6 separate regions of the Homo sapiens genome follow, and regions 1, 3, 4, 5 and 6 are each linked to region 2. Evidence: fine-mapped expression QTL. A gene starts in region 2. Each other region holds a variant in brackets. All regions are shown on one strand. Distances are from middle to middle.

Region 1 (5,143 bases), 24 kb after region 2:
CTTTCTCACACATGTGCACATGTGTGTGTGCGCGCGCACACACACACAATTAGTCTCACTGGCAACACTTGTTCTTAGGTAACAGACATTCCAATAAGCTCAGCAATTCAAAGATTTTCTATTATTCTCTTAGAAGGGACAATGTGCTAGGCAATTTTCACTTTGTACATCTCCATTATGCAATGGAACAAGTGAGACAGAGTACAATGTGAGACAGAGTACATTGAAAGAGGGAAGACTTGGAATAGTTGAAGTATTAAAATCCCCCAGTAGAGTCACATTTCATTTCATTAACACATAGTTTTATAGAACATTATTTAATGCATAAGGAGTAGTCATCTGTACTGAAATCACAGAGACCATTATATATTGATGAATAGCTTTGTACACCTTATAAATTAGATGAAAAGAAACTAGGAGTATGGGAGCAAAAGTTAGATAAAGGAAGCACTACTGAGAAAGGCTAAACAGGAGTCGGTAATCTGCAAAGGTCAAGCAAAAGGTTTTGAGTGTCCTTAGCAGAAGCTTACCTTTTCTATAAAGGCCACCCACCTGGCATCTTTTCTCTGGTAAACTGAACCAACCTTGATATACACCAAGAGAAAGCATTCCAAAACAGAAGGGCATCCTTAAGCCATCTTGGGGATTCATTCCATTTCTGAAAAATAAGTTCAGGCCACATTTCTTGGTTCTCTGTCAGAACTAAGTCAGACAATAAGATAATTTGTGGCTTATGAATGAGCAAAATTTATAAAATAACCTTGAGCAACAAACATAAGGTAGATAAAAGACATTTAACTTAAAATGATTAAAATATAGCAGACATTTTGATTAAAATGAAAACTAGCCTATGATTCTCTTCCTTTGTCTGGCTGTTTACTTAGGGATTTCTCCAAAATTGGCCTTTGAATTCTTCTTAAGAAGCCAAAAAGAAGAAGGAAACGACTTTCTCAGTCATAGCAATAGTAATGGCTTACCACATAATGAGCTATCAGTATATGGCAGGCCCAGTTCTAATTGCTTTATAGATATTAACTAATAGTTAAAAAAAAAAAAAATATGAGCAATGCCTTTTCTTGTGCCTATTTTACAGTGAATCAGCCTGAGGATCTGAGCAGTTTAGTTATCTGCCTAAGGTCACATATCTTGGAATAAGCAGAGACAGGATTTGAACCTAGGAAGTTTAACTATAGAATCTGTGCTATTAGCCACTCTACTAAACTGCATATGGTGTTCAGTGCAACATGGGATTAAGGACAAGGATGGCTCAACTAAAGAATGACCATATGAAGCGTACTTTGCCCACAAGAGAAGCCTTATCACATAGCCATTCTCTCTTTATTCTACAAATTAACCCCCATGTGTAAAAGCAATATCTGTCATCCATATTTACATTTGGTTTCTGGTAAAGGTTTTTTCCTTTATATTTGAATTTCTTTTGATAATGTTTAGCCCCCAAAATGATGGATTCTTCTCATAAAATTGCTCTCACACTAACCAATTAAATTTAGCATCTTCAGCATGCATTATTACTTAAATATGATGTGACATCTTAAGAGCTTAGTATTGTAGGAGTCGATTCTTTATGATAGCATCAAAACTTTGAAATAAAATGTCTTAAGAGGTTTTGGCCCTTACATGGGAGGTAACAGATTTGCTCTAAATGGATCTGTGGATAGGCTGGCTAGAAATAAAGTTGGATAGGCCCAATTTTAGGACAAACAATTCCAAAATAAAATATCAGGAAGGCCACAATTCTCTTTTCCACCAAAAATAAACAGTATTGTTAAAGCCAGTGGGAGTTTCTTCTCAATGAACTGCTGTTAACTATTACAAATTAACTGAATTTAGAGTTCCACTACTAATTGAGGTTTTACTCACTTAAGTAGTTTAATTATTTTAATGTAATAGCACCCCCCCAAAAAAACTTCTATTAATTCCTTATTTATTTATTTTCTAATCCTGTCATATCTACCTCTAAATTGGAAATATTTGCCACTGAACCCTCAACCTATTTACAAGTGTAAATTGTGGTTGTGAAACCTAAGGCCGATTCACAGAAACTATAATTTCAGCCTAAATACATGTTTATTTCAGGACTGCTCTCCTCTCTCCTCATCTTTGTACTTTTCCTGGGAGTCAAAAATATTTTTTGTACTTTTAGTAGAGACAGGATTTGGTGGCCGGCGCCTGTAGTCCCAGCTACTTGGGAGGGAGGCTGAGACAGGAGAATGACGTGAACCCGGGAGGCGGAGCTGGCAGTGAGCCATGAGCTGAGACAGCGTCACTGCACTCCAGCCTGGGCTACAGAGTGAGACTCCGTCTCAAAAAAAAAAAAAAAAA[AT/T]TCTTACCAACTAGTTATTGTTCATCATTAATACTCAATTGTGTGATTACAAACTTCTTTCCTTTTTTTAGTAAATCTCTATATTTAGATAGTTTGGTAGTGAGCATGACCACTCCTCTCCAAAGCTTCTATATTGATTCTTTAATGATGTTCAGGTGCTGTTTCCAGCTGACCCATCTTAGCAGCTCTGATTATACTAATTTTTTCATACATATCTTAAAGGCCTAGAAACAGAAATCTTTGATTTCTAATGTGTATCTTTGACTGCTATCTAAAGACGAAGACAGAAACATCAAAGGAAATGGTAAGCTTTGGGGATTTCCTTGATTTCACTTTCAAATTGATGATCATTTTAATTGCAGACATTTTATTTTAATTTGTTAGCAATTTTTAGGCAGAGGGTAGGCTTTCAAAAAATACATTTACTATTTTTTTCCTTCAAAGATAACCTTTCAGATTTGAAGGCAGAGATTTGTACAGATATATATATACATATATACGGATGTTCATAGCAACATTACTCACAAAAGCCAAGAAGCAACCAAAGGGTCCATTGACAATTGAATGGAGAAACAAAATGTAGTGTGTATGTATATAGAAATTTTGTTATATGCACACATACAAACACACACATATACACACAATGGAATATCACTCAGTCTTGGAAGAAAATTCTGATACGTACTACAACAGGGATGAACATTGAAGACATGCTAAGTGACATAAGCCAGTCACAAAAGGACAGATACGGTATGATTCAACTTATTTGACGTGCCTAAAGTAGTCAAATTCATACACACAGAAAGGAGGTTGGTAGTTGCCAGAGTATGTGAGGAAGGGATATGTGGAGTTATTCTTTAATGGCTACAGAGTTTCAGTCTGGGAAGATGAAAAAGGTCTCGAGATGGTTGGTGGTGATGTTGCAGAACAATGTGAATGTGCATAATGCCACAAAACTATACTCTTTTGAAATGGTTAAAATGCTAACTTTTATGTTATGTATATTTTACCATAGTAAAACAACCTCTGTAATTATTTAAAAATATCTCTTGATATCTATCCTACCTTCCAGTACGTAAACTTCCTCATATTTTTTTCTTTTTTGAGTCAGGGTCTTGCTCTGTTGCCCAGGCAGAAGTGCAGTGGTGTGATCTTGGCTCACTGCAACCTCTGCCTCCTGGGTTCAAGCAATCCCTCAGTCTCAGCCTCCTGAGTAGCTGGGACTACAGGCAAGGGCCACCATGCTTAGCTAATTTTTGTATTTTTATAGAGATGAAGTTTAGCCATGTTGCCTGGGCTGGTCTCAAACTCCTCTGCTCAAGTGATCTGCCCACCTCGGCCTCCCAAAGTGCTGGGGTTGCAGGCGTGAGCCATCGTGGGCAGCACAGTATATGAATTTCTTACCTCTCATATTCGTTTTGTGACACCATCACAGAATTTCTCAATGACAACATACTCTTTTCCTACATTTGCTCTTTTCCTACTCCCCTCAACTTTTACAAAATCTGCCTTGTTGCTTAAAACACTATACAAAATTTACATTAGAAACATAATGTCTACGTAGCATCAGCACTGTGGCATTCACATTTTCCCACTGTGAACTCTAGGCAATGTATCCATGACTGTCAAGCATTATAGCATTCCATGCTCACTCAATTCACAGGCTGTTCCTGGCGGTTTCACAGAACTTTTCAAGTAATTACTTTCTTTAGTATCAAGGGACTTATAACAACCAAAGAGCATGTTGCTCATCTCAGTCATTGTCTGGGTGCAGTGACACCCATTCTAAAGGCACTGACACTATTTTGTGAGCCTGACCTCATGATTGAGATCACATAATTGCAATAATTAGGAAACTCACCTCAGGATATTATCAAAATGACCCACCCAAACCCAAGTCCATATGGTTTGAAATAGCTAATGAGTCAGTTAATGTGCTATGTCCAGGAGTAATGGGTACTCAATATGGATAGCATGAAGGTATAATTTACCAACGTTCTGACTGATTAAGGGTTTCAAGTGGACATTTTACAACCTAAACAGGGTATGAAGTATTAACACTTTTGATGGTTGAGACAAAAGGAAGAAACAGTGTTTAAAAGTCAGGGACATTGGAACTTGAACAATTTCTTTCAATCATATTTTCCAGGCTTACAAAGTTAATACTATATAAAATGGAATGAAGATGTAGGTTTCGGTAGCCAATTGTGATAATGTGGAAAGGTATGGGGGATGCTACTGGCTGAGTCCTTTGCATAACAGAAAAATAAAGAAAATGCTGAAAATTCAATCCACTGATTTGGGGGTGGGGTGGGGAAAAGAGGGAAAGTTCTATTACAAAGAAAAGATAGAATTAATATTAACAGATGTCTATATGGAAGGGATTCACTGAGTGATTAGATATATTTTTATTTCATGGTAGTATAAACCCAGATAAACGGTCATAGTATTTTTGGCTAATTTGTTGTCTGCAGTATCTTGGAGACAATAAATATTTAGTCCAAGCATACGTATAAATTGGGATTAAGAAAAATTCTAAAGTAATGTTTTAATACTAATTTGAAACCTCTATGATAAAGGTCTGTATTACATTTTTTATTTTGGATATGAAGGGATGTAAGCCCAGTGCATTCTTATACAGAGTGCTTAATTTGGAGTCCATACACACTCAGTGGGTCCCTGGTTAGATGTTAGGAACAATCTGTGAGCTTGGAAAGGAGGGAAAAAAAAATCACATTTTAATTTTTCACTCATTTGTACTGGAATTTAGCATTTCCTGTAATTATATAGCAAATCATT
Region 2 (5,143 bases):
CATTCATTCATTCAAAACTACAATCTTAATTTTATCAGAAGAGGATCTTTTATATTTCAGGATCCATGAAGCATGTTTTTCTGGAAATATGTGATGAGAACCCAAGATTCCCTCAACGGAGGTATTTTATCAACTCCTTAATCTCCTATAGAAATAGATGTGATCTCAAGTCTCAAGTGAGTACATTTAGGAGAATTTATCCTTGAGGGTATATTTTTAAAAATCACTACTATTTTCCTTATTTTATTAATCAATCTTTTAATGGATATCCCCTCCTCATTCCAACTCAATGATCCATTAAAGTTCAGTGTAATTTTTAAATGCTTAAATGCAATGTAAAGGCCTATCCAGCCCATGGTTCCTTACCTGTACCACAGATCACAGAAAATAATTTTGAGTGTTTATTTTTTCAATTATCCCAAGAATGGCACATCCCTAGGGACCACTCTAGATGCACGAGAGAGAAGTTAATTCATTTCACAGAATAGATGCCTTAAGTTTTATCTATGAATTCTCCAGTAGAGCCCAATTAAGAAATGACTAGACTCTTGTATTGCCTAAATATTGATTAAGATTCACAAACAGAAAGTGTTTTTATCTATACAGTTGTGGTTTCTCATCTGAAAAAAGCATGTTTCTAAGAAAACAAGCTCTCAAAAAAAAAGAAAGTTAGCATTTTGTCTGGCAGATTGTATAATTATGCTCTAAAAAGACTTCTAAGATTTACTCAGAAAAACATGGACAACAAGGAGTGGGTCAGTGATGTCTTGAACCTAGACACTGTACTCTATTATTACTTAATCGAGTACAATCATGAATTTTAATAAAGTACACATATGAATTCCATATTTCCATTCTTAAAATACCACTAAGTAATCACGGTTACAGTCACAGATATAAGAATAATTGTTAATTTAAGGTTTTACTTTACCTAAATATATCAATCCAAATCCTCCAGAGCCAATCTTCTTGCCCAGTACCCACTGATTGCCTTCCATATCATCCAGAACCTTGCCTTCTGGAAATGGAATAGGAAGTTTGTATTTTTCATTTCTTTTTGGTGGCATCACTTCTGTTGGCAGAAGGGGTGAGATAAATGGGTAAAAAGAAAAACAAACAAACAAAACTCTTAAAATACACTTCCCAAAATGTCTTCAATAGGGAACTTTCCCAGGTTCCCAGAAATTAGGATTCTAAAGTTAATTCAGTTTGGAAAAGCCCACACATTATATTCAAATTAGAAATTCACATACATTACAATACTGAGATCTAAGAGGTATAGATATTTTAAAAAAACAGAAGCAAACTAACCAAATTTCATCCAAAATTCATTTCGGGGTTCTATAGCACATATTAACAGTGCAGGACACACCTTAAGAAACACGAAATTAACAATTTCCAATGAAGAAAGAAAATAAATTTCATGTACATGGAAATATTGCTGTCACTGAGAATGTAAAATGTTAAAAGTGAGAAGGTCTTCAGTCACTAGAAAAGAACACAGGATTGGATTGGGAAGACACAGACAATGGCAATGGACATCTCACCACCGTGATACTAGGTACTCAGTAAACATTTGTTAAATGAGCCAGGGATTTTCACGGATATGTAACTTAGCAGAATACTAGGCCATCAGTTCTCGGGCTGCCAAAATATTCTCAGCATTTTGTCTTCTTACCCTCTTTCTCAGTTTATCACAGTGAAAACAGTCCTGCCTTAGAGATTACAACTGTGCCACCAACAACAAAAGCATAATCTCCACAGCACAGCCATGCAACTTTAATCAACTAATTATAATTGTACATAGGTTAGCAAATTTCTCAATGGGAAATTCTGAGTTAAAAGAGAAAATTTCTTAGGGGAAAATACATATGCCAGCATACATGCCTGAAAATAATTTAAATGTGAAGGTAACCATGATCCTCTAAGTATTTAAAACTATTAAGAGTTTCTGACATGAAAGTTAATTAAAAACGTATATACGTAAATGTAAAGTTTTCTTAATATAATCTTCCTAGCTTCCATAAAAGAAAGTATCTGTTTTTCCTTTAACGGGTTTTTCCTCCTTCACTTAACTGCTTTTTTACTTAGCAGTATTGTCCCAGGTAGAGTCGCTGCGTGTATCTTTAACAATATTCACCTTCCTCCTGATAGGCACACAAGGGCTGGGAATTTGGATGGTGAACTATGCCTAGAGCATTGATTGTATCATAAAGCAGGAAAAGTTTTTGTGGAGGTTTCCCTTGACCAGTACATTATATAGGCTGGTGCCTATTACAGATTTACTGATTTAAAACTTAAAGTCTCCAAAGTGTAAACTACTGATTAAGGAATAAATTCTAAATAATTATAAAAAAGATAAATACACTTTGGGGCAAGGCAGCGGCCTCAGGGCTTGAGGCGGTAAGGGAGACTCTACGAAATGTACATCCTGGGGGCGAGTCCCGAGTTCATCTGCCAAGGGAAACGACAGCCTCTCAGGGCCCGTCCCTGTCAGGGGTGTCCCTTCGGCTTCTGGGTACCTTCCCAGGGCTAAGATGAGTCCTCAACACGAGTTTCCGAGCAAACTGGTACCCAGGGGTTAACATGTGCCTGGGCTGACCTCCAACCCCGCCGCGGCCCCTGACCCTGCGGAAGGTAACGAGAAGCAGCGCGGCCCAGCCGCCTGGTCCGTCCGCCCTTAGCACGCCGGGGACCTACGGCCAACCCCGCGCCCCAACTTCCCGCCACAAGTTCTCTCTGCACCGGCAAAAAGAGAAACTCCACCCACTTTTCCGCTAACACGTCGGACCCGCTTTTGGCAAACGTGAGTAGAAGGGGACGCCTTGTTCTCACTCCCAGCGGGGAAAAAAGAACCAAACGCGGAAGCAGCGACTCTGCCCGGGCCGGAGCTGAGGCCCGGGGGCTGGGACGGCCCGGAGTCCCCGGCATCTAACTCCGACGGCAGCCCTTTTCCGAGCGGGGCCGCGGCTCCGGCACTGCAAGCGGAGGTGCCGCCCGCCACCCAAGACCCCAGAGCAAGAGACTGACCGGGCCTCAGGATCCCCCGTCGCCGGGCCGCGCGCACCGCCTCCTACCTGCCGCTGCGACGAGGCGGAGCCCCCGGGCCTACAGTCCCGCGGGGAGGCGGGCCCAGCACTCGAGCCTGCCCTCCCTAGGACCTGCCTAACTTCTCTCCAGCTGCGTCGGCCTCGCAGTGCAGCGGCCCGCGGAGCCTCACACAGGCCGCAGCCGGTTCCTTTCAGCGGCCTGTCCACGCCCCGGAGACGCCCAGGGGAAGGAGAGGGCGCGGCTACATGGGGAATGGGAGCTGTGTTACTACCTCCACCCTGGCCCGCCAGCGTCTGGACGAAGAACCGCCGCCAGACCAGTTTGGTACGAAATAAGCACGACATGCATTTGTGTAGGAGTGTTAGATCTCCTGTACCACAACCTGAGTACTACGAGCTTCCAAATGGCTAGTCCTTACCGAGCTCTCGCCGAGCAACTAACTATTGGTACTAGCGAAGACTCCAGTTAGGAGGGCCTGTATGTAACTCACCGCGTTTAAGTTCTCAAAGGCATATTGGTTCAGGACCTATTTCTGCCATTAATCGTAGGATAATTTAACACCGTAATTAACAAACTTCAGGTTTTTTTGTCTGTGAAATGGAAATAACCCTTGTTGTTAGATTATAAGGTTATTGGTTATAAGATTATGACAATAAGGTGAGGACTTTATTAAGCAGTTTTCTAATACATAAAGACTCATAGTGGCCAGGTGCGGTGGCTCACGCCTGTACTCCCAGCACGTTGGGAGGCCGAGGCGGGTGGATCATCTGAGGTCAGGAGTTTGAGACCAGCCTGGCCAACATGGTGAAACCCTATCTCTACTAAAAATACAAAAAATTAGCCAGGCGTGGTGGCGGACGCCTGTAATCCCAGCTACTCGGCAGGCTGAGGTAGGAGAAGCGCTTGAACCCAGGAAGCAGAGATTGCAGTGAGCAGAGAGCGCGCCACTGCACCCCAGCCTGGGCAGCAAGAGGGAAACTCAGTCTCGAAGGAAAGAAAAAAAAGACTCATAGTAAGCTTATATTTTAGACTAAACCAAACAAATGCTTAGACAAAGATTATTAATACGTCAGCATTCTACATAGTAACCACCAATAATTGGTTGGGATACAAATACTGAAAGGAAAATTAGAGCCCTTTAATGACTTTGATAGAATAAGGAATTGGGGCTCCCTACATCTTTCAGACTGTCACCAAAATGAAAGATGGCATGAGAAGACGTTTCTAAAAACAAACAAAAAAGTATTTTTAAAGAAACAGTCCATAGAATAATTGTGCCCTTAGTCATTCACTGGTCCAACAGTGTCCTTTCTTATTTTCTTAAGATATTTATATAACAGATGCATAATTACAGATATTTATGTAACAGATGCATAATAATCCTAATATCCATATTGGGTACTCTTTCCTCCTTTCCAAATTTGTTTAGCTTTCCACCACTTCCCCGGCTCCCTTTTGAGAAGAAACAACTCCAGTAGCAACCACAGCAGATTACTTGTAGGTGGTTCCTCTCCCTACAGGCATGTATCCAGTGTTAGTAAATCCTGTTGGCTCAACCTTCAAAATACATCCAGCATCTATCACTTAGCACCCTTACCTGCATTCTGGCCCAAACCATATTTTTTCTCTAGGTAATTGTATTACCCTCCTAAATGTTTTATACCCTCTTATCCCTTTAGTCTGTTCACAGCAAGCAGCCACATGATCCTTAACGCTTAAATAATTACTGAGCTTAAAACAATTCAGTGTTATTCCAATTTACTCACAATTAGCCAGTCTTCGCTATGACTTTAAACAGCATTTCTCAACCTGGGCACTATTGACAGTCAGCCTGGATAATTCTTTGTTGGGGGTTTGGGAGAAGGAGGAGGATTGAGAGATAGGCTGTCCTGTGCATTGTAGGATATTTAGCAGTATCCCTGGTCTCCTCAGCACTCCCTCCCACACAAGTTAACAACCAAAATATCCCCCAACATGACGAAATTTTGCCAAAATTGCCAGTCGTTGAAAAGAACACTGATCTACCTATTATGCACTCCCACTCCCCAATGTCCTATTACTCTCTTCAACCACAGTGGCCTGCTGTTCTCAA
Region 3 (5,143 bases), 71 kb after region 2:
ATACCCAAAGGAATATAAATCATTCTACTGCAAAAACACATGCACACGTATGTTTATTGCAGTACTATTTACAATAGGAAAGACATGGAACCAACCCAAATGCCCATCAATGATAGACTGGATAAAGAAAACATGGTACATATACCACATGGAAAACTATGCAGCTATGAAAAGAAAAAGTCAGGAAACAATAGATCATATCCTTTGCAGGGACATAGATGAAACTGGAAGCCATCATCTTCACCAAACTAACACAGGAACAGAAAACCAAACACCTCCTGTTCTAACTCATAATTGGGAGTTGAAGATTGAGAACACATGGACATGGAGAGGGGAACAACATACACCAGGGCCTGTTGTAGGGTCGGGGGTGAGGGGAGGGAACTTAGAGGACAGGTCAATAGGTGCAGCAAACCACCATGACACATGTATACCTATGAAACAAACCTGCATGTGCTGAAAAAGAAAAAGGAAGAAAGAAAGAAAGAAGGAAGGAAGGAAGGAAACAAATCAAGTAAGCCAATATATAAAAAAAAAAAGATACTTGGCCTGAGGGATCACATGATCCATGTCTCTAGTGATGTGGCACCCAATATGTCAATCAATATGATTTAGATCGGGATGGTAAGTTGGCAGCATGTTTGAAATTTCATAAAGATTGTTCTGCTTGCCTTAATTTTATGATGTCAATGACTTAAATTTCATAAAATGTTTATTAAGCAAGTGACTGGCTTTTTAGGTCTTCTGTTATCAAGGCTTAGAAGTGGACATGGCTGAGATCTAGAATGTAGCTATGAGGCAAATCGAAAGTAAAGCATTATGTCCCACACTGTGAATTTGTAGGAATTACTGTAATAATTTTTTTCTAATTGTTTCTGACTATGTCCATCTGTAACCTGGTTATTTATTAACAAATTTTTGGATATGTTCAATTTTTTAAGAATCACCCGAACTTCATACTGAGTGGTATTTTTCTTTATGCTTTGGAATCAGCACCAAGTATGTTAATGAATTATTTTTTCACCCATTAAGTCCTTTTTTTGTAACATACATTATTAAACAATACTCTTAAAGTAGAAAAAAAAGCTAATTCACTATGATCAAATAGTCTTTATTTCTATGACTTAAGCTTAGTTCAGCATATGCAAATCAATACATGTGATTCATCACATAAGCAGAAATAAAAACAAAAGTCACACGATCATCTCAATAGATGCAGAAAGGGCTTTAGATAAAATTCAACACCCTTCATGTTAAATACCCTCAACAAACTAGTCATTGAAGGGACATGACTCAAAATGATAAGAGCCATCTCTGACAAACCTACAGCCAGCAACATACTGAACGAGCAGAAGCTGGAATCATTCCACCTGAAAACCAGAACAAGACAAGAATGCCCATTGTCACCATTCCTATTCAACATCGTACTGGAAGCCCTAAACAGAGCCATCAGGCAAGAAAAAGAAATAAAAGGCATTCAAATAGGAAGAGTGGAAGTCAAACGATCTCTCTTTGCAGATGATATCAGTCTATATGTAGAAAACGTCATAGACTCTGTTCAAAGTCTCCTAGGACATAAACAACTTCAGTAAAATTTCAGGACACAGAATTAATGTACAAAAATCGGTAGCATTTCTGTATACCAACAATGTCCAACCTGCAAGCCAAATCTAAAACACAATCTCATTCACAAAAGCCACAAAAAGAAAAAAAATACCCAGGAATACAGCTAACCAGGGATATGAAAGATCTCTACAATGATAACTACAAAACACTGCTGAAGGAACTCAGGGACTACACAAATAAATGAAACAATATTCCATGCTTATGGATAGCAAGAATCAATATTGTTAAAATGGCCATACTACCCAAAGCAATTTATAGATTTAATACTATTCCTATCAAACTGCCAATGTTATTTTTCACAGAATTAGAAGAAAATGATTCTATAATTCATTTGGAAACAAACAAACAAAATCCTAAATAGCCAAAGCAATCCTAAATTAAAAGAACAAAGCCAGAGGCATCACACTACCTGACTTCAAATTATACTACAAGACTACAGTAACCAAAACAGCAGATATTGGTACAAAAACAGACATATAGACCAATGGAGCAGGTTAGAGAACCAAGAGATAAAGCCACACTCCTAAAACCATCTGATCTTTGACAAAGTTGACAATAGGGAAAGGACTCTCTCTCTATTCAATAAACAGTACTGGGAAAACTGGCTAGCCATGTACAGAAGATTGAAACTGATTCCCTTTCTTTCACCATATACAAAAATCAACTCAAGAGGAATTAAAAATTTAAATATAAGACCTGAAACTATAAAAACTTTGGAAGACAATCTAGCACATACCATTGTGGACATAGGTCTTGGCAAATATTTCATGACAAATTCTCCAAAAGCAATTGCAATGAAAACAAAAGTAGACAAGTGGGACCTAATTAAACTAAAGAGCTTCTGCACAGCAAAGGAAATTTTCAACAAAGTAAATAGACAACCTACAGTAGGGAAGAATATATTTGCAAATTATGAATGCGACAAAGATCTAATATCCAGAAACAATAAGAAATCTATAAGGAACTTAAATTTATAAGCAAAAAACAAACAACCCTATTAAAAAGTGAGTAACTGGCATGAAGAGATACTTCTCAAAAGAAGACATACAAGTGGCTAACAAGCATACGAAAAAATGCTTGACCTGCAGAATGGCTATTATTTAAAAAGTCAGGAAATAACAGACATTCAGATGATTGCGAGGTTACAGAGCAAAGGGAATACTTATACTCTGCTGGTGGGAATGTAAATTAGTTCTGCCGCTGTGGAAAGTAGTTTTGAGATTTCTCAAAGAACTTAAAACAGAACTACCACTTGACCCAGCAATTCCATTACTGGATATATGCTCAAAGGAATGTAAATCATTCTACCAAAAGGCACATGCACTTGTATGTTCATCACAACACTATTCACAATAGTGAAGATATAGAATCAGCCTAGATGCTGAACAGTGGACTGAATAAAGAAATGTGGTACATATACACCATGGAATACTACACAGCCACGAAAGAATGAAATAATGTCCTTTGCAGCAATATGAATGCAGCTGGAGGCCATTATCCTAAGTGACTTATCACAGAAACAGAAAACCAAATACCACATGCTCTCACTTATAAGTGGGAGCTAAACGTTGATTGCATGTGGACACAAACGGGAACAACAGACACTGGAGTCTACCTGAAGGTGGA[G/A]GGTGAGAGGAGGGTGAGGGTCAAAAAATACCTATCAGATACTATGCTCACTCCCTGGGTGAAGAAATCATTTGCATATCAAACCCCAGTGACATGCAACTTACCCATGTAACAAATCTGCACATGTACCCAACTGAACCAAAAATAAAAGTAAAAAAAAAAAAGAGAGAGAGAAAACCAAATATGGCATGTTCTCACTTATAAGTAGGAGCCAAATCTTAGAATCTTGGGTACATGGTTGGGGACAGGTGGTAGGGACTCCGAAAGGAAGGAGGGAGGAGTACAAGGCCTGAAAAACTTCCTACTGGGTGCTATGTTTGCAGTCTGGGTGACGGGATCAGTAGAAGACCAAACCTAGCATCATATAATATCCCCTTGTAACAAACATGCACGTGTACCCCACCCCAAATCTAAAATAAAATTGAAATTTAAAAAATAGAGATGGAGGAAGGGGGTCAGAGCCAAAAATTTCAAGATAATACATTTGTGTTATTTGAAACCACAAAGTTTGTGGTAATTTGTTAAGGCAGCAATAGAAAACTAATATAAAAAGTCTATAGAGTATATCCTTGTTTTTTGGCACTTACTGTTGCTTCTAAGAAATTTACTGTCAGTCTGATTTTGTTTAGCATTTTTATGTGTTTGGAGCATGGTTGATTTGGGGTGTGTTTCATCTCAGTCACTGATATGAATACCTTGGTATTAAATGTATCTTTGTTATCAATTTCTTGGTAACAGTATATTTTTTTTCATTGTGATTATAGAACATCGTTTTCACAAATTTTACTTTAAAAATGTTAAGGGTTGTCTATGGTCTAAAATATGATGAAATAATTTTATAGCTAATTCATGAAACATAATAAATAACATGTAATCTCTATAATTTATGATATGCTGTATAAAGTTTAACATATCTTAAAACTTATATTGTTTAAATTATCTTTATCAATTTGTATAGCCTACCTGATCTCTCAAACCTATGAGATGATCAATTCTTTCATTATTATTATGTAATTTTTAAGTTTCTGTGTGTATATATAAATAGCTTTTATATTGTTTGATGGCATTATTCATCAAGTAAGGGTTGGCTGTTTTATCTTGAGTATGTTTTTGCAGTTTATTATTTTCTGCTTTTATCTTCATTAATTCTTTTTACTGCCTACTTTTTGATTTCCTTTGATGTATGTTTTCTAGTTTTACAGTTGGCTGTTTCCTTAATCTTTAAATGTTTTCTATTTAATAATTGAAGTACATATTCCTATGAATTTTTCTCTGAAGTGGCTTTGCCTTTATCTCACAGTTTATATGTTCAAATTTTCACTGAATTCTAAAGAGTCTATACTTTCAGCTAATTTTTTAGAAGAATTTTTTTCCTATTTTTATGAGACTAGATTTATAATTTTATATTTAGTTTTTTGTTCTTTGCACTGTAATAAGAGAATATGGCCTGTCTGCCTTTTTGAATTTAGTGGGATTTTGCTATACATCTTACTACGTAGACAATTTATAAAAAAATCCCATATATACTTTAAAAGTGTGAGTATTTTATGTTAGTTTGTTTTAGAATTACCAATATTTTAATCTGTTGGACTTTTGTGATCAATTAAATCTTGTTTAATTGTCAAGTTCACACTTGATCTGACAATTTTGGAAAGAAAGATATTATAAAATATTTCTTTATGATTAAAGCTTTATCAGTTTTTCTTTCGATCCATTTTCTTCACAGCAGAAACAATAGCTTTAAATAAATATAAAAACCTTATATGGCTTTCCATTTTGCTTAGAATAAAATATTAACTTGTTTCTGTTATCTTTCCCAGCATTCTTTAATCTGCAACAAACACTAAGCTAACTTCTTCCTCAGAGCCTTTGCACATGTCACTCTCATTTT
Region 4 (5,143 bases), 29 kb before region 2:
CCATGCTCATAGCAGCATTACAGACAATTAGCCAAAAGTAGAAGCAACCCAAATGGCCATGGACAGATAATTAAACAAAAGGTGGCATATACTTGGAATGGAACATTAATCAACCTTTAAAAAGAAGGAAATCATGTCACATGCTACAACATAAATGAACCTTGAGGACATTAGGCTAAGTAAAATAAGCCACACCACACACAAAAAGACAAATACTATATGATTCTACATTTATGAGGTATCTAGAGTAGTTAAATTCATAGAAACAAAAAAGTAGAATGCTGGTTTCCAGGTGCTGGGAAAAGAGGAAAATGGAGAATTACTGTTTAATGAATATAGAGTTTCAGTACTGCAAAATGGGAACATTCTGGAGATCTGCTGCACAACAATGTGAATATACTTAACACTACTGAACTGTATATACAAACACAGTTTTAAAAATTCTGCAGCCTTACGGGCTACCAAAGACAAGGATTCTGAAAGAGGGCAAGCTAAGAAGCTATCACATTGGCCTGAGAAGAAAAAGAGTTCTGTCCAAGAAATGACAAAACTATGTTGCCAGCTATCTCTTTGCTGGAAGTATAGAGACATCTAGGGAGTTAACAATACTTAGACAAATTTCCATGCATGAAGAAGGAAGAGCAACAGAATTCTACATGGTATTGTTGGCCTTATCCCACTAACAACAGAACTCTACAGTAAATTGTGGCAGTACGCACATTATTTTTCAATAGGAAGAAGAATCACTAGGATAAGTTCAAGAGAACTGCCAGAGAGGGTATGGAAGGATGTGATGAAGTGAGAAGTCTCCCAGAAAATTACTATGCTTTGATTATTATGGAAATATCTTTAGTTTAAGAGTGGTCACTTTTGGGGGCCAGATGACACTTCTAATCCCATTTAAACACCCAAAAATATATTTAAAGAAGGTTAAAAAAAAAATGGAGGAGACGCTTAGAGGTATAGGTTCTTTGCAGCCTAGTCTAACTTTTTCTAAGAGACAGAAGAATAACTCACCTACACAGATTGTGGGTAGGGGGCAGGAATTCTTCAGATAAGACTGGTCAATCAATTAGGATTTAGGAAAAATATCCTGAGACAACAAAGGCCTAGGATCAATTCAACAAATTAAGAATCCGAGGACTTGTGTGGAGGAAATCATGATTCAATGAACTGATAGGGTGTTCTAGGTTCTACACAATGTTTGTCCTTTGTATTTCAAGTTCTGCTTACACTAAGGTATTTAAAGCCTATAAAGAAAATATTTCAATAAATAATTTAGAGGAGAAAAAAAAGAGCGCTAAGCTCATAAAAGACAAAAAAAGATTGAAGAATTTTCCCAAAGGGAGTTACAGAGACAATGATAACTACACATATTGTGTCATCTTGGATTTTGAACCAAAAAAGGACATTAGTAGGAGAACTGGCAAAATTTTAATGAAGTATATAAATAGGTTAATAGTATTGTATCAATGCTAATTTTCTGGTGTTGATAACTATGTAATGTACTATGTGCTATTTTATAATATATCACCATTTAGGGCAGTCGAGTAGAGAATATGGAAACATTCTTTTTTTGCAAGCTCTTTAAAATTTAAAAATTAAAAGTTACAAAATAAAATTTTAAAGTATAAAAACAAACAAAATAGGTGATATTCAAGATTTCTCTTTAAAAAGGTAACAATCCTCTTACAAAATTGTGCGAGTACTGGAAAGAGAGCAAAACCATAGATGTGCATGAGATTTTGAAAAAAACTAATGATAAACACTATCATCTGTAAACTTAAAAACTTAGAAAAAATGACAATTTCCTAGAAAAAAATATAATTTACCAAAATAATTCAAAAAATAAAAAACCTAAATAGAAATATAATCATTAAAGGAAACAAATCAGTATTTCAAAAAAATGTAGACAGTCCTCAACTTACAATGGTCAACAGGGTTTTTCTACTTTACAATGGTGAAAAAGCACTGTGCATTCAGTAGAAATCATACTTCGAATTTTTAAATTTTGAACTTTTCTCAAGCTAGTGATATGAGGTATGATACTCTTACAAGAGATACTCAACACTTTATTAGAAAATAGGCTTTGTGTTAGATGATTTTGCCCAATTGTAGGCTAATAAAAGTGTTCTGAGCACATTTAAGGTAGGCTAGGGTAAACTATGATGTTTAGTAGGCTAGATGTATTAAATGCCTTACTGACTTACAATAATTTCAATTTATGATGGACTTATGAGGACATAACCCCACTGTAAGGAGCATCTGTACAGATAAGATGGAGTAGGAACACTCAACTGTAGCTCTCCCACTGAAAACAGCTATAAAATATAGACCAAAAAAAAAAAAAAAAAAGAAGACAGTAGCTATTAGAAGGCTCTTAAAAAGTAAAGAGAGGTTTCCACTCAACATATTAAGAGCTTGGAGGTCCTTACTCCTGTCTTCTTAAGGGGGAGAAAAAAGAAAAAAACTGAACAATCTGAAAATCAACAGCTTTTCTTTAAT[C/G]CATCAGAGAACTGAGGTTACAAGGCAAATCAGTGCCCAAAAACTGGAAAGACAAGTGAATACAGAGAATCACATCTTATTGGGGCAGAGTTTTACTATAAGCCCTCCATGTTCTCACAGTGAATATCAGAAAAATCTCCTGTTTCCAGCAGGGGAAGGGAAACTACTTTGCCAGAACCTAATCAACATGGGAGAAGAAAAATAACCACTCCAGCCTCTTCTAGCTTTCCTATCTCACCTAAGTAGGGTACAGGAAGCTGAGAAATACTGGTGAAGGTCACATCCTGGGGCATAGGCCCCCCACCAAAAAAATAGGTTTATACTTATCATTAGGTAAATCCAAATCAAAAACACAAGATACCATCTTGTACCAGTCAGGATGACTATTATTAAAAAGTCAAAAAACAATAGATGTTGGCGAGGTTTCAGAGATAAGGGAACATTTATACACTGCTGGTGGGAATGCAAATCAGTTCAGCCATTGTGGAAAACAGTTGAAAGACTCTCGAAGAACTTAAAATAGAAATACTATTCAACCCAGCAATCCCATTGTTGAGTATATACCCAAAAGAATATAAATTGCTTTACCAAAAAGACCCATGCACATGAATGTTCATTGCAGCACCATTCACAATAGCAAAGATCAACCTAGATGTCCATCAATGGTGAACTATATAAAGAAAGTGTGGTACATATACACTACGGAATACTACACAGCCATAAAAAAGAATCAGATCGTGTCCTTTGCCGCAACATGGATGGAGCTGGAGGCCATTGTCCTAAGCAAATTAACACAGGAATAGAAAACTAGATACTGCATGTCCTCACTTATAAGCAGAAGGAAAACACTGAGTACACATGGACACAAAGAAGGGAACAAAAGACAACGGCGCCTACTTAAGGGTATAGGGTAGGAGAAGGGTGAGCACTGAAAAACTACCTAATATGCTGATTACCTAGGTGACAAAATTATCCGTATACCAAACTCCCATGACGCACAATTTACCCATGTAACAAACCTGCCATGTACCACTTGAACTTAAAATAAAATAGGAAAGAAACTAAATAATAAAAATAAAAAGCAGATTTAGTCGTAAGATTATAAAAGGTCTCATATTCTCCCACACCTTACCAGCACATCAACAGTAGACCCACCTTGCAAGAAATGTTTTTAAAAAGCTCTTGAGAGTGAAGGAAAATAATATACCTGTTATTACTCACATCTGCAAAAGAAATGAACCGTGCCAGAGAGGAAATAAATGAAGGTAAAATAAAAGCTTATTTTTTTATTTTAATTGGCAAAAAGTTTATTCAAAATAACCATGTGTTGAGTTATTATAGCTTATGAATAAGTGAAATGAATTACAGCAAGAGACAGGAGAGAATAATTATAAGGTACCTGCACTAATTGTGAAGTAGTATAGTGTTATTTGAAAGTAAACTTTGACTAGTTGTAAATGTTGCCCTGCAAACTCTAAATCAACCACTAAAAATTTCTAAAGAAGAATTGATACTCCAAGAAAGGAGAGAAAACGGAGTCATACAAAATGCTCAATTAAAAACAGAGAAGGCAAAAAAAACAGATAAAAAACCAAGAAAGAACAAGCATAACAAATAGAAAACAGTTACAAATACAGCAGATAATAATGCAAATATACTAACAATCACTTTAAATGTTAATGATCTAAATACACCAATTAAAAGACAGATAGTGACAGAGTAGATTGAAAAAATAAGACAACTATATGATGTCTATAGGAAACCCACTTTAAATATAAAAACGCAGATAAATTAAAAGTAAAGGGACAAAGAAAGATCTATCATGCTAACACAAATCAAAAGAAAGCTACAGTAGCTATACTAATATCAAACAAAGCAGATGTGATGGTTAATACTGAATGTCACCTTGATTGGATTGAAGGATAGAAAGTATTTATCCGGGACCTGTCTGTGAGGGTGTTGCCAAAGGAGATTAGCATTTGAGTCGTGGGCTGGGAAAGGCAGGTCCACCCTTAATCTGGGTGGGCCCAATCTAATCAGCTGCCAAGGTGGCTAGGATAAAAGCAGGCAGAAGAATGTGAAAAGATTAGACTGTCTTAGCCTCCCAGCCTACATCATTCTCCCATGCTGGATGCTTCCTGCCCTCGAACATCCAACTTCAAGTTCTTCAGCTTTGGGACTCAGACTGGTTTCCTTGCTCCTCAGTTTGCAGATGGCCTATTGTGGGACCTTGTGATCATGTGAGTTTAATACTCCTTTATAAATTCCCTTTTATATAAATATAAATATAAATATAAATATAAATATATATATATATATAATCCTATTAGTTCTGCCCCTCTATAGAAGCCTAATACAGCAGACTTAGAACCAGAAAAACAATCAGGAATAAAGAGGGATATTAAATAATAATAAAGGGGTCAATTCTTCAGGAAGACATAATAATCCTTAGTGTGTATATACTACCAACAGAATGTTAAAATACATGAGGTGAAAACTAAGAGAACTGGAAGGAAAAACAGACAAATCCACTGTTATAGCCGGAGACTTAAACACACTTCCATCAGTAATTGACAGATGCAGCAGGCAAAAAGTTAATAAGAATACGGTTGAACTGACAGCACCACCAATCAATGAA
Region 5 (5,143 bases), 64 kb before region 2:
AAGTGAAAAGGCCCTGCCCCGCCTTAACTGATGACATTCCACCATTGTGATTTGTTCCTGCCCCACCTTAACTAAGTGATTAACCGTGTGAATTTCCTTCTCCTGGCTCAGAAGCTCCCCCACTGAGCACCTTGTGACCCCGCCCCTGCCCACCAGAGAACAACCCCCTTTGACTGTAATTTTCCATTACCTTCCCAAATCCTATAAAACGGTCCCACCCCTATCTCCCTTCGCTGACTCTCTTTTTGGACTCAGCCCACCTGCACCCAGGTGAAATAAACAGCCATATTGCTCACACAAAGCCTGTTTGGTGGTCTCTTCACACGGACCCGCATGAAAGTCTCTATGGTCCTCTTTCTTTCCAGAAGCAGCAGGAGGGGCTCTCTCTGAAGTTCCATCATCTGATTAAGGGAAGTTCTTCCAGAAGAAACGCAACTGTCTTTTTTTTTTTTTTTTTTGAGACGGAGTTTCGCTCCTGTTGCCCAGGTAGGAGTGGTGCAGTGGCACAGTCTCAGCTCACTGCAACCTCCGCCTCCCGGGTTCATGTGAGTCTCCTGCCGCAGCCTCCTGAGTAGCTGGGATTACAGCCGTGTGCCACCACGCCCAGCTAATTTTTGTATTTTTAGTAGAGACGGGGTTTCACCATGTTGGCCAGGCTAGTCTGGAACTCCTGACCTCATGATCTGCCTCCCTTGGCCTCCCAAAGTGCTGGGATTACAGGCGTGAGCCACTGTGCCTGGCCTAGAAATGCAATTGTCTTAAAACTCCTTCCCCAGGAATCTCATCAAATAACCAGGAAAGATTAGTCACCAAAGAAAAGACTAAAAGTCATAACCACACCCAGACAGGCTTTTATTCTTCTGAGGGCAGTTCCAAGAGATTACCTAAAAGACTTTATCTACATATTAAGACAACTTGTGTTCATAATGAAGTTCCACCCTTCAGCTTCCCACAATGTGCTGCAATGTCCCCCAGAGCTCAGAACAACTTTGTCCGAGGCCAGTAGTCTGTTGTTTGGGCTCATTCACTTCCCCTAAAAGTCATTTGCTTCTAAAATTGCATATACTTCCCCACTTCCCTCTTCCATATGAAGAGGGTATTTAAGCCTCAACCATCTGGACCTTCTTTGAGTCTCATATTTTCAGGACTCCCGTGTCCATGTACATAATAAATTTGTAGGCCTTTTTTTTTTTTCCTGTTACTATACTGTCAGCTCATTCCAGTGACCCTTCAGAGAAGCGTGGAAGAGAAGTTTTCTATCCACCCCTACAGACTACAATTAGGTCACACTGAGAGTTCTACTAAGATAACTCAGTAGAGAAAGACAGTCTAGAATTTTGCTAGAACAAAGGAGATGTGGGGGAGGGAAGGCTAGAAAATACCATCAAATAAGTAAAGGAAGGGAAGAAATGAAGTAATATCTTTTGAGGTTCTATTATCTAATAATCACTGGGCAAAGTACCTTTCTCAAATTATTTCATTAAATCTAGACAAACACATCCAGCCTGGTAGCACTGGTTTTATTTTACATATAAGAAAGCTGAGCATCCCAGCAGTTAAATAACTTGCCCAAGTCACAGAGCTTGTAAAGGATGAAAGCAGGATTCGAATCCTGGCTGATATGACTTCCAAATTCCATTCTCTTTTTTCAAAAATACAATATAGAATTAAGGGTTCTGTCAACTTCTGAAATTATGTTGAAGTCAAAAATGAGTTTGTGCAGAACTAAATCTATAGTAGGGGTCACAGTCTAGGTCCTATTTTTATACACCCTAAAGCTAAGAATAATTTTTACATTTTATAGAATTGTAAAGGGAAAGAAAAAGAGAAGAAAATGTAACAGAGAACCATATGTGACCCACAGAGCTCATAAAAGCCTAAAATATTTGCTTTCTGGCTCTTTACAGAAAAAGTTGCCAATCTATAATCTAAAATAAAACTTGTTTTGGTTCAAAGTTTTTTATATATTACCTTTTTTTTTCTGTGAAATCAAAAACAAACGGCTAATATTTTTCATTTTAATTGTAAATATGTGTAATACCCCTAGTTTTAAACAGGCCTGTCTGTGGAACTCAAGATTTATACCAGGATCAGGTAGGTGTGATTATTTGCGTTGTAGTAAGACTAGCCACAGGAATATATAAATAGTTACTCCCTATGCATTTATTTTTATATTTTTAAAATAGAGATGGGGTCTCACTTTTTTGCCTGGGCTGGTCTTGAACTCCTGGGCTCAAGCAATCCTCCTGCTTCAGCTTCCCAAAATGGTGGGTTACAGGCGTGAGCTGCCACGCCCAGACTCCTTAATGCATTTCAAATGATTGTCCTTTTATGCACTTTTTCTGAATGTAGCCATCATTTCCCTTCTCCATGAGTACGAGGGACAGCCTTACCTGCTTCCCTTCACCTTGACACAGAGATTTTTCTATTACACTGTATTGACTCTCACATG[A/G]TTTTCTTGCCTTTCTTAGACATTACTTTTTTTTATAACTTTGTGAGGTAGATAGGGAAGATGGATGTCATTATCAACATTTAACAGATGAAAAATATATTCCCAAACAACGTAAGCCACTCAACACTCACTAAGGCCAGCCTGTCCAAGGGTTTTGTTATTTTAGTGAACTTCTCGACTCCTCCAATAAACAACTAATTTTAACTAACGCTTTTACAGGCTTTCCATTTTGATACTTTGTGATTGAAAATGTAGTGTTGCAGCCACTGAGGTGTAATCCCATCAAGAAAGAAGCGGCCCTTTACTTGTAAGGAATGCAATAAGTCGACATCCACTAGGGGCAGGACCACTGGGTCCTACCACAGCGTGTGCACCAAGGCCACACTCTTCCTGGGCAGTTGATCATGGAGAGGGTGTGACTATTTCTACATAGCTGGGGTCTCTCCTAATAGGCAAGCTTTGCTCTGGAGCTCCCCAATGTCGGGAGTGGGCACTGAGATTTTGTCAGATCTGCATCATGTCTGAAGCTCTCCCTCCTCAATTCTGCCTCTGGTTCCCTTTCCTTTCACAAGTGTCAGATCAACATCCCGCTCTGGAAGCCTTCCCTGTTCAATCCTGCTTCCTCCCCTTTTATCTTACATGGGCATTAGATTTCCTGCCTCCAAAAAGCCCTTGCCCTCCTAATTCTATCTCAGTATTAGCCTCCCCAAGAACCCCATTCTTGGCAAACAAGGTAAGGAAATTGAGGAGAAACAAAAAAGTACTGTATAATAATACAAAGCACAAATTTGTATCAAAACACAGTAGCATCTGTGAGGCTACATATATTTTTTAACAGATATGAATGATTCTTGTGAACATAAACATGCTGCTGCTTCATTCCATGCTTCATTCCCTTTTTGTCATATAGTTATTTTCGTAAATATGCATTTGATTTATTGTTAAGATTTTTGCATTATGGTATGTTATTGAAAAAATAGGAATATATTATGCCCTATTAAAATAAATGATTGCTTTCTGTTTTGAAGAAAAGCCTTTAAAGTTGCTACATACATGTATATACATGTTCTCCCCAATTTATGACAGAGGGGTCAATAAATCACAGCCTTGATTAAAGAATGGAATGAAGATGAAAAGCAAATTAGCCTTTGAGTATGATCATGAAAAACACAAGTTTCATATACTAAGCAGTCCGTCTAGAAAATCACCTTCATATTTCACCTGGCCAGATCACCTTCCTATTTCACTTGGCCAGATTTGTACACAGGTATGCCATATTCCCAAGTTCTACACTTAGTTAAGCCTGTACTTCCAGTCTTCTTTGCTTCCTGATGCTTGTAGGCTTTTACACCGCTTTATTTTTCCAGATGGATGGGTAAAGCTAATGATTAAAAAGAACCCTCTGATTTTGTGGGCAACAGAGTAAGACCCCATCTCCAAATATATATATATATTTACATACAGAAAGAAAGAACCCTGTGAAATCCTCTCTCTGGTGAGTTATAAGAGAATGGCCTTTATATGTAGAACCTGAAATGGTTTGGCTGTGTCTCCACCCAAAATCTCATCTTGAATTGTAATCTGAATTGTAATTCCCATGTGTTGAGGGAAGGACCCCTGGGAAGTGATTAGATCATGGGGGCGGTTCCCGCATGCTGTTCTTGTGATAGTGAGTGAATTCTCCTGAGATCTGATGGTTTTATAAGGGGCTTTTCACCCTTTCCCTCAGCACTTCTCTCTTGCCAGCATGTGAAGAAGGACATATTTGCTTCCCCTTCTGCCATGATAGCAGTTACCTGGGGCCTCCCCAGCCATGCAGAACTGTGAGTCAATTAAACCTCTTTTCTTTATAAATTACCCAGTTTTGGGTATTTTTTTTTTTTTCATAGCAGTATGGGAATGGACTACTACAGATCCTTTTAAGCACAAGGCAATTTACTGGGTTTTCACCTTGTCCACATGAATCTGCTATTTTAACAATGTACAAAGTTATTTAGCTTTTTTAAATTTATGCTTTGGCTCCACAGTTAAAGGCTGTAGGCTCCTAGGGGTTGAGGGACTGGGATAATGTCATATATACATTTTTGTATCCATAACAGCACCTACTCTAAGGCCTTCTGCACAGTTGGTTTGAATAAATTTTAATTGATTTAATTGATAATAATTAGACAAACTGAACTAAATTTTTTTAACAGATACCTGAGTGCCAAGCTTAACAGATACCTGAGTGCCAAGCATAATAAACAGGAAATATACACTTCAAAAAAGAAAAAGAAAAATGAATGCATACTTATCAAATACTTGCTGTAAGAGCATTAAGTACTTTACATAAGTCAAATCATTTAATCCTCATGACCCTAAGAAGTTATTTTAAGATCTTTTGAGAATGAGAAAAAAGGATGAGTAAGGGTAGGTGATCTATGTAAAACAAATAAATTCTAGTAACTGGCAAAGCTGAGATTTGAACCTAAATCAATCTGACCAGAAGTTCTGAGTTATTTTCCATGTGCCTCACATAGCAGAAAGGGAGATGGCATAAGCACATCTACAGGCCTAGAGGTAACATATACTCTGACAAAAGCATAAAAGTCTATGAAATTTTACAGCAAGGAAAGGCTATTTCTAACAGGGAGACTCAGAGAAAGAAGCAACATTTAAGTTGGGTACTGAATAATTTCTAAGACTTCCACA
Region 6 (5,143 bases), 250 kb before region 2:
AATTTTGGACTTCATCAAAATTAAAAACTTTAGTTCTTCAAAGGACACTACAAAAAGGTGAAAAGACCACCCATAGAATGGAGGAACATATTTACAAATCATATATCTGATAAGAAGCTTGTAACTAGAATATACAAAGAACTCTTACAACTCAGTAATAAAAAGATAAACAACCAAATTAAAAATGGACAAGCAATCTGAATTTTGATTTCTCTGAAGGAGTTATACAAATAGCCAATAAGCGCATAAAAAGATGTCATTATTAGTCACTGGGGAAGTGCAAATTGAAACCACAATGAGATACCACATCACCCTTAGTAGGATGACTAGAATCAAAAAGTCAGATAATAACAAGTGTTGGCTAAGATATAGAAAAATTGCTGGTGGGATGTTAAATTGTAGATCCACTTTGGAAAACAGTCTAGCAGTTTCTCAGTTAAACATTGAGTTACCATAAAATACAGGAATTCCACTCCTAGTTAAATACCCAAGATAAATAAAACATATATCCATACTAAAGCTTGTATACAAGTGTTTATAGCAGCATTATTTATAATGGTCAAAAGGTTCCCACCAATTCATGAATAAACAAATGTAGTATGTCTATACAATGAAATATTATTTGGCCATAAAAAGTAATGATGCATTGACACATGCTACAACACAGATGGACCTTGAAAACATTAATGGTTTCTTGGGGATGAGGAAGCTAAGAGGGATTTGGGGTCATATCTAGAGGGATGCAGTTTGAGGTGATAAGAATGTTCTAAAGTTAGCTGTGGTATCTGTGTGTATACTAAAAACAATTAACCTTGTACATTAAGTGGGTGAATTGTATGGTGAATTAAATTTTTAAAAGCTGGGTTTTTTAAATCCATTATAGAGAAAGGAAATTATGCATCTTCAGGTAGAGATCTTCATTAAAAATAAATAAAATACTTTTGGTGAAAACCCACATAGTGGTGTTAGGATATATTCAATTTTATTTATATATTTATAAAGGATTTTATGCCCAAAATGTGTATATAAGTCTATAGCTTATGTATAGGGCTCTGTAGCAGAGCCTATGCTCCATAACTCTATCCTCTGTTTTGAGTATAGGACTTAATTCCGGACAGATACAGAACCCTACTTTTCTAATATTGCATAAATATTTCTCATAGTGAATGGAAGTAACCTGGGAGACGTAATGTAATGTGCTCTTTGCTTTGGGTTATTGACCTTTCTTATTTTTTATTCATCCTCTAAAAAGAAACAAAAGCAGGAAGAATTAACTCCTGGCTTCTCTGTTAATCTTGTCTGCTTCTCCTTCATTACCACCTCCTTCAGAATTGAATACTATCATGTCTTCTCAGATCTTTCCATCTAACTGCATCACAGCACTTATTCCATCCTGAATCATTTCCTTATTTTCAAGCACTTGTTATCTCCACAAGATGATAAGTACCTTGAGGTCAGAGATTATGTGTTATTTATCCATATTTTACCACAATTACAGACCTTCACTAAATTTCTGCAGAAGGAATGAAAATTTTACATTTGTGCATTCTAGAAGATGAGCTTTTCTAATAACTATAACATGAAATCATAAAAATTTAGAGTTGAAAGAAACCTTAGAAAATATTTGGTCTAATCTATCAATAAATGTAAGAAAACTTTCCATAGCATTTCTTAAAAACACTTTATTCAAGCCACTATTTGAATATTTCTAATGCCAAGGAATCTGCCTTACAAAGTGATTAATTGCATTTTCAACTAGCTTTTATTGTTGAAACGTTCATCATCAATGTTAAATCTAAACTTGTAACTTCCTCCCTTTGGTTGGTCTAAGATCTGTCACGTATGGCTATACATTATCTAATTTATCTTCCATGACAACATATGAATTATTTAAAGACACTATCATAACACTCCTTGTTTTCTCTGTGCCAAGCTTTCCATTTTATTCAAATGTTTCTTATAGACATGATTTCTGGACCTTTTATCATGTGGATTCAGCTCCTGTGGACATCACCAGATTTTTAATATCCACTTTAATTTGTACTTCCTGGAAATGGAACCCACAACATGTGACTGGTGTCAATTACACAAATGCCTTTTCCTTCCTTA[G/AG]TCTATACCCTGGGCTTTGTTAATGGGACTAAAGCTACATGAGTTATTTTGAAAGCCATATCACACCATAGTCTTCTACTAAGCTTGCCATAAACTAAACTCTTCTGACATTTTTTTCCATGCAAGGATCCTGTGAAATCAGAGCTCTTTAGTTCTTAAACTTGCAATTAATCTTTTCAACCTTCATACAAGATTCTATATTAATTTGTGAAATAAACAAAATGCCCTACACAAACCAGGTGTTCAGCAGATGTCTGTACCTCCTTTTCACAGCACTTATTACAGAAGTAATATTGTGTTTATTATTTGGTTATTTAAGAGGAGGGCCCATGTGTATCTTTAGTCATCACTATATTCTCATCACTTAGCAAAGTGGCTAGCATAGAGTAATTGCTCAAGAATTCCCATAATTCTTTTACTGCATTGCCATGCTGCTGAAAACAACAGTGAATTCAGAGAACTGATTTGCTTGCATTAGCAGTCAATTCAGCCAAAACAATTGAGTGACCACATGGTGACAATGTTTGAAATAATCTTCTTAATAATAAACGTATTATGGCCAGTGCCATAAAAACCCAAAGCCACATTTCCAAAATATGCCCCATCTTACCTAAGAATCTAAACTTTGTGTCAAACAACTAAAGTCCCATAACCTGAAAGATTATTATTTTTTACTAAGTATGACTCTTCAAATGCCTAGTCTCTACAACATTAGCTTCTAATTAATAGGTTCGTTATGCTGATGCCATTGTTGCCATATGTAAGGTTCCAAGGAAAAAGGGTAATGTTTTATTTTCTTACTTTTACTAACTCATGAAATTTTGATTTGAGTGTGTATAATTTGTAAGATATGTAATCTTTTCTGTTTCCTTGATTAGGTAAAGGTAAACGCAAAGACAACTCAAAAAACTCATTTTTTTTAGAGTACAAAGGTGACTGATAAATAAATCATAGGTACTTTGGAAGAGATGAGCTTCTCTGCAACCTAAAATTTCTAATTAAAATTGAGCTGTCCCTATTGTGTAGTATGTGGAGGCTAAAGTTTACCTTTTATATCATACACCAACTTGAACACATTATTTCATAAATTAAGCATGAAATTCCAACTGATTTTAAAATTTGGAAAGCTTTTTGTCATTTTTGATAGCCTCCTATTTGAGGACGAATAGGCAGACAAACCTCCTGTTCTTTAATAACATAACATTAAGTACTTCTTGGAAACAGGACACAATAGAGAGAAGGACTGTTTATGAGTCAGAGGAACATGTGCTACTGTCAACTTGAATAAGAGGCATCAGATATTTCTGGTGATGAAAACCTTTCAGTGAGGTGAAACAGGCCACGTTCCATTTCTTTTATTTTCAGAGATGAGATGGATTTGAAAACCATAACCTGGCTTCTTGATGCAAGGACTCGCCACATGAGATAATCTCCAGCACATTACTATTGGCAAGCAGATCTTTCACCCTTTTGTCTCCATGCATTACAGAAAACGTTAAATCAGTTTGGTGTCCATATAAACTTTTGATCCTAGGAATAGCCTAGGGTACCATCATTATCTTCCCGAGGACCATGTGTAGGCCTTCAGTAGGTAGTACTAATTTAATCTCTTTGCTAGAGGAAAAAGTAACTGATTTTCTAGATCAATATTTGATTGAATATGTTTGAAATGTTGGCAGATAAAGGCCCCTTTTCTGGTCCAAAGACTTTTTGAACCACAGAGGTATAGCGTTCTAGCTCCCCTGGGATTTGAGTGGAAGGAGGTCTCAAAGATCTGTAAGAAGCCTTCCTGCCTTTCCTTGTGTTCTTCCAGCAAGACTCTCTAAAGGTTGAGATGAGAAAAAGATAAGATCAAGAACTGGAATGTCTTTATTCCATTTTTTTAATCTTTCCTGGGGCTTCTCTTAACTAAAAATAATCGTTTATACCACTAGTTTACAAAAACCTCCTGTAATAGGATGTTAGAAAGAGAGCCCATCTGATCAGCTTTAAGGAGTTAACCCAGTGACTTTGGCAAATAATTTGAGACCTCAGATTCTATCATTCATACCACTAATTAAACAAGAATATCAATATATCAGCAACAGAGAGATGAATACAAATTAAAATGCTAAGGTGTTAGACAGATTAGAACTTTAGTTGTCTAGTTATATTGATAAGCAAAAGAGGTTTTCACAAATTATACTGATTTTGAAAATGGAGACTGGGAAAAAATTCCATCCAAATGATATTTGACCAAACAGAGAATTTAGTTCAGAAGCACATATTTCACTGTAATTATTATATTTGCTTTTTAAAGTTTTAGTTAAATTAGTAAACCCTTCCCCAAAACAAAACATTGAAAAACAGCTTACATCTGACTGAAAAGTATTACTCAGAATAAATAGCACTAACAATACTGTTTTCTGAGTCTACATATGAAATTCAAAGAAAGATTCTTGAGGAGAATGTTTTCCTTTAATTTTCTCCTTTGCTGCAGAAATGCACATGCATTCCCTAAGCATGAAGAGAAAAAAAAATACTCACAATTTCCTGTACTTTCTTTCTTATCATTGAACTTTTGTTTAGCTGAAGGATAAATTTGCTTTCCCCTAGCTACAGACTTTGAACACAGAAGTATGCTTTATAAAGGAGTAGCCACCACATGCAAAGCCAACTGCAACTCCTTGGAAATGTGGATTCTAAAGGACTTATTTTCCACAGCTTAAGCCAAATCACTTCTCTTATTCTGAGATGAGAATATTATGGTCATTTAATTTTTTGAGAATTTCTCACAGTTTTAATCTATTTTTGTAAAATCTTCTATTCAAAGTAATGATATTCCCAATACAAACTGAATAACTCTTCAGGGCATTAGATTATATTTCTTACTTAAAATGGTAAAAATCAGCCTGCAAAAAGGGACATAGTTTTTGTATGTTTTATTTTATAACACCTTGCTCATTGCTTGGTATGGAATAGGCATGCAACAAATACTTAAGCCAATTATGTAGATAAACTGAATTTTCAAGTTTTGTTTTTAAAGAATAATCAT

Which allele goes with the higher level. Positions count from the first base shown, and alleles are read on the strand shown. Sizes are in standard deviations (SD) of each study's normalised expression. Not every link is listed here.
For the expression in monocytes after LPS of the gene that starts at base 3,093 in region 2, allele T in region 1 goes with a higher level than allele AT (large effect, 0.80 SD a copy in Quach 2016).

The links. PIP is the estimated chance that this variant, and not a neighbour inherited with it, causes the effect.
Region 1: its variant is the best candidate, but not a certain one, in a credible set for the expression of VRK2 in monocytes after LPS (Quach 2016, PIP 0.65).
Region 3: its variant is the best candidate, but not a certain one, in a credible set for the expression of VRK2 in whole blood (INTERVAL, PIP 0.59).
Region 4: its variant is the best candidate, but not a certain one, in a credible set for the expression of VRK2 in whole blood (TOPMed, PIP 0.63).
Region 5: its variant is the best candidate, but not a certain one, in a credible set for the expression of VRK2 in whole blood (INTERVAL, PIP 0.67).
Region 6: its variant is the best candidate, but not a certain one, in a credible set for the expression of VRK2 in whole blood (INTERVAL, PIP 0.50).

Annotation. Positions count from the first base shown.
Region 1 is chr2:58,021,180-58,026,322 of GRCh38, reverse strand. It overlaps a transcript of VRK2 not described here. Among named protein-coding and RNA genes, the nearest start is that of VRK2, 23 kb to the left of the region's middle. The variant AT/T (reference allele first, on the strand shown) is at 2,344.
Region 2 is chr2:58,044,756-58,049,898 of GRCh38, reverse strand. It overlaps VRK2 (VRK serine/threonine kinase 2), which reads right to left and starts at 3,093. Exons shown (of 13, transcript NM_006296.7): 1 at 3,031-3,093; 2 at 932-1,072. The coding sequence starts at 1,067. LOC107984043 (formin-2-like) reads left to right here and starts at 2,666. Exons shown (of 3, transcript NR_171623.1): 1 at 2,666-3,375. RefSeq lists a silencer at 2,841-3,110 and enhancers at 2,714-3,269, 3,261-3,380, 3,270-3,825.
Region 3 is chr2:57,974,032-57,979,174 of GRCh38, reverse strand. It overlaps a transcript of VRK2 not described here. Among named protein-coding and RNA genes, the nearest start is that of VRK2, 70 kb to the left of the region's middle. RefSeq lists an enhancer at 1-93. The variant G/A (reference allele first, on the strand shown) is at 3,253.
Region 4 is chr2:58,073,319-58,078,461 of GRCh38, reverse strand. All of the region lies in intron 2 of VRK2 (VRK serine/threonine kinase 2), which reads right to left. Among named protein-coding and RNA genes, the nearest start is that of VRK2, 29 kb to the right of the region's middle. The variant C/G (reference allele first, on the strand shown) is at 2,506.
Region 5 is chr2:58,108,628-58,113,770 of GRCh38, reverse strand. The region is part of intron 7 of VRK2 (VRK serine/threonine kinase 2); the gene reads right to left. Among named protein-coding and RNA genes, the nearest start is that of VRK2, 64 kb to the right of the region's middle. RefSeq lists an enhancer at 580-1,164 and a silencer at 4,003-4,297. The variant A/G (reference allele first, on the strand shown) is at 2,453.
Region 6 is chr2:58,296,688-58,301,830 of GRCh38, reverse strand. No RefSeq gene overlaps it. Among named protein-coding and RNA genes, the nearest start is that of LINC01795, 23 kb to the right of the region's middle. The variant G/AG (reference allele first, on the strand shown) is at 2,110.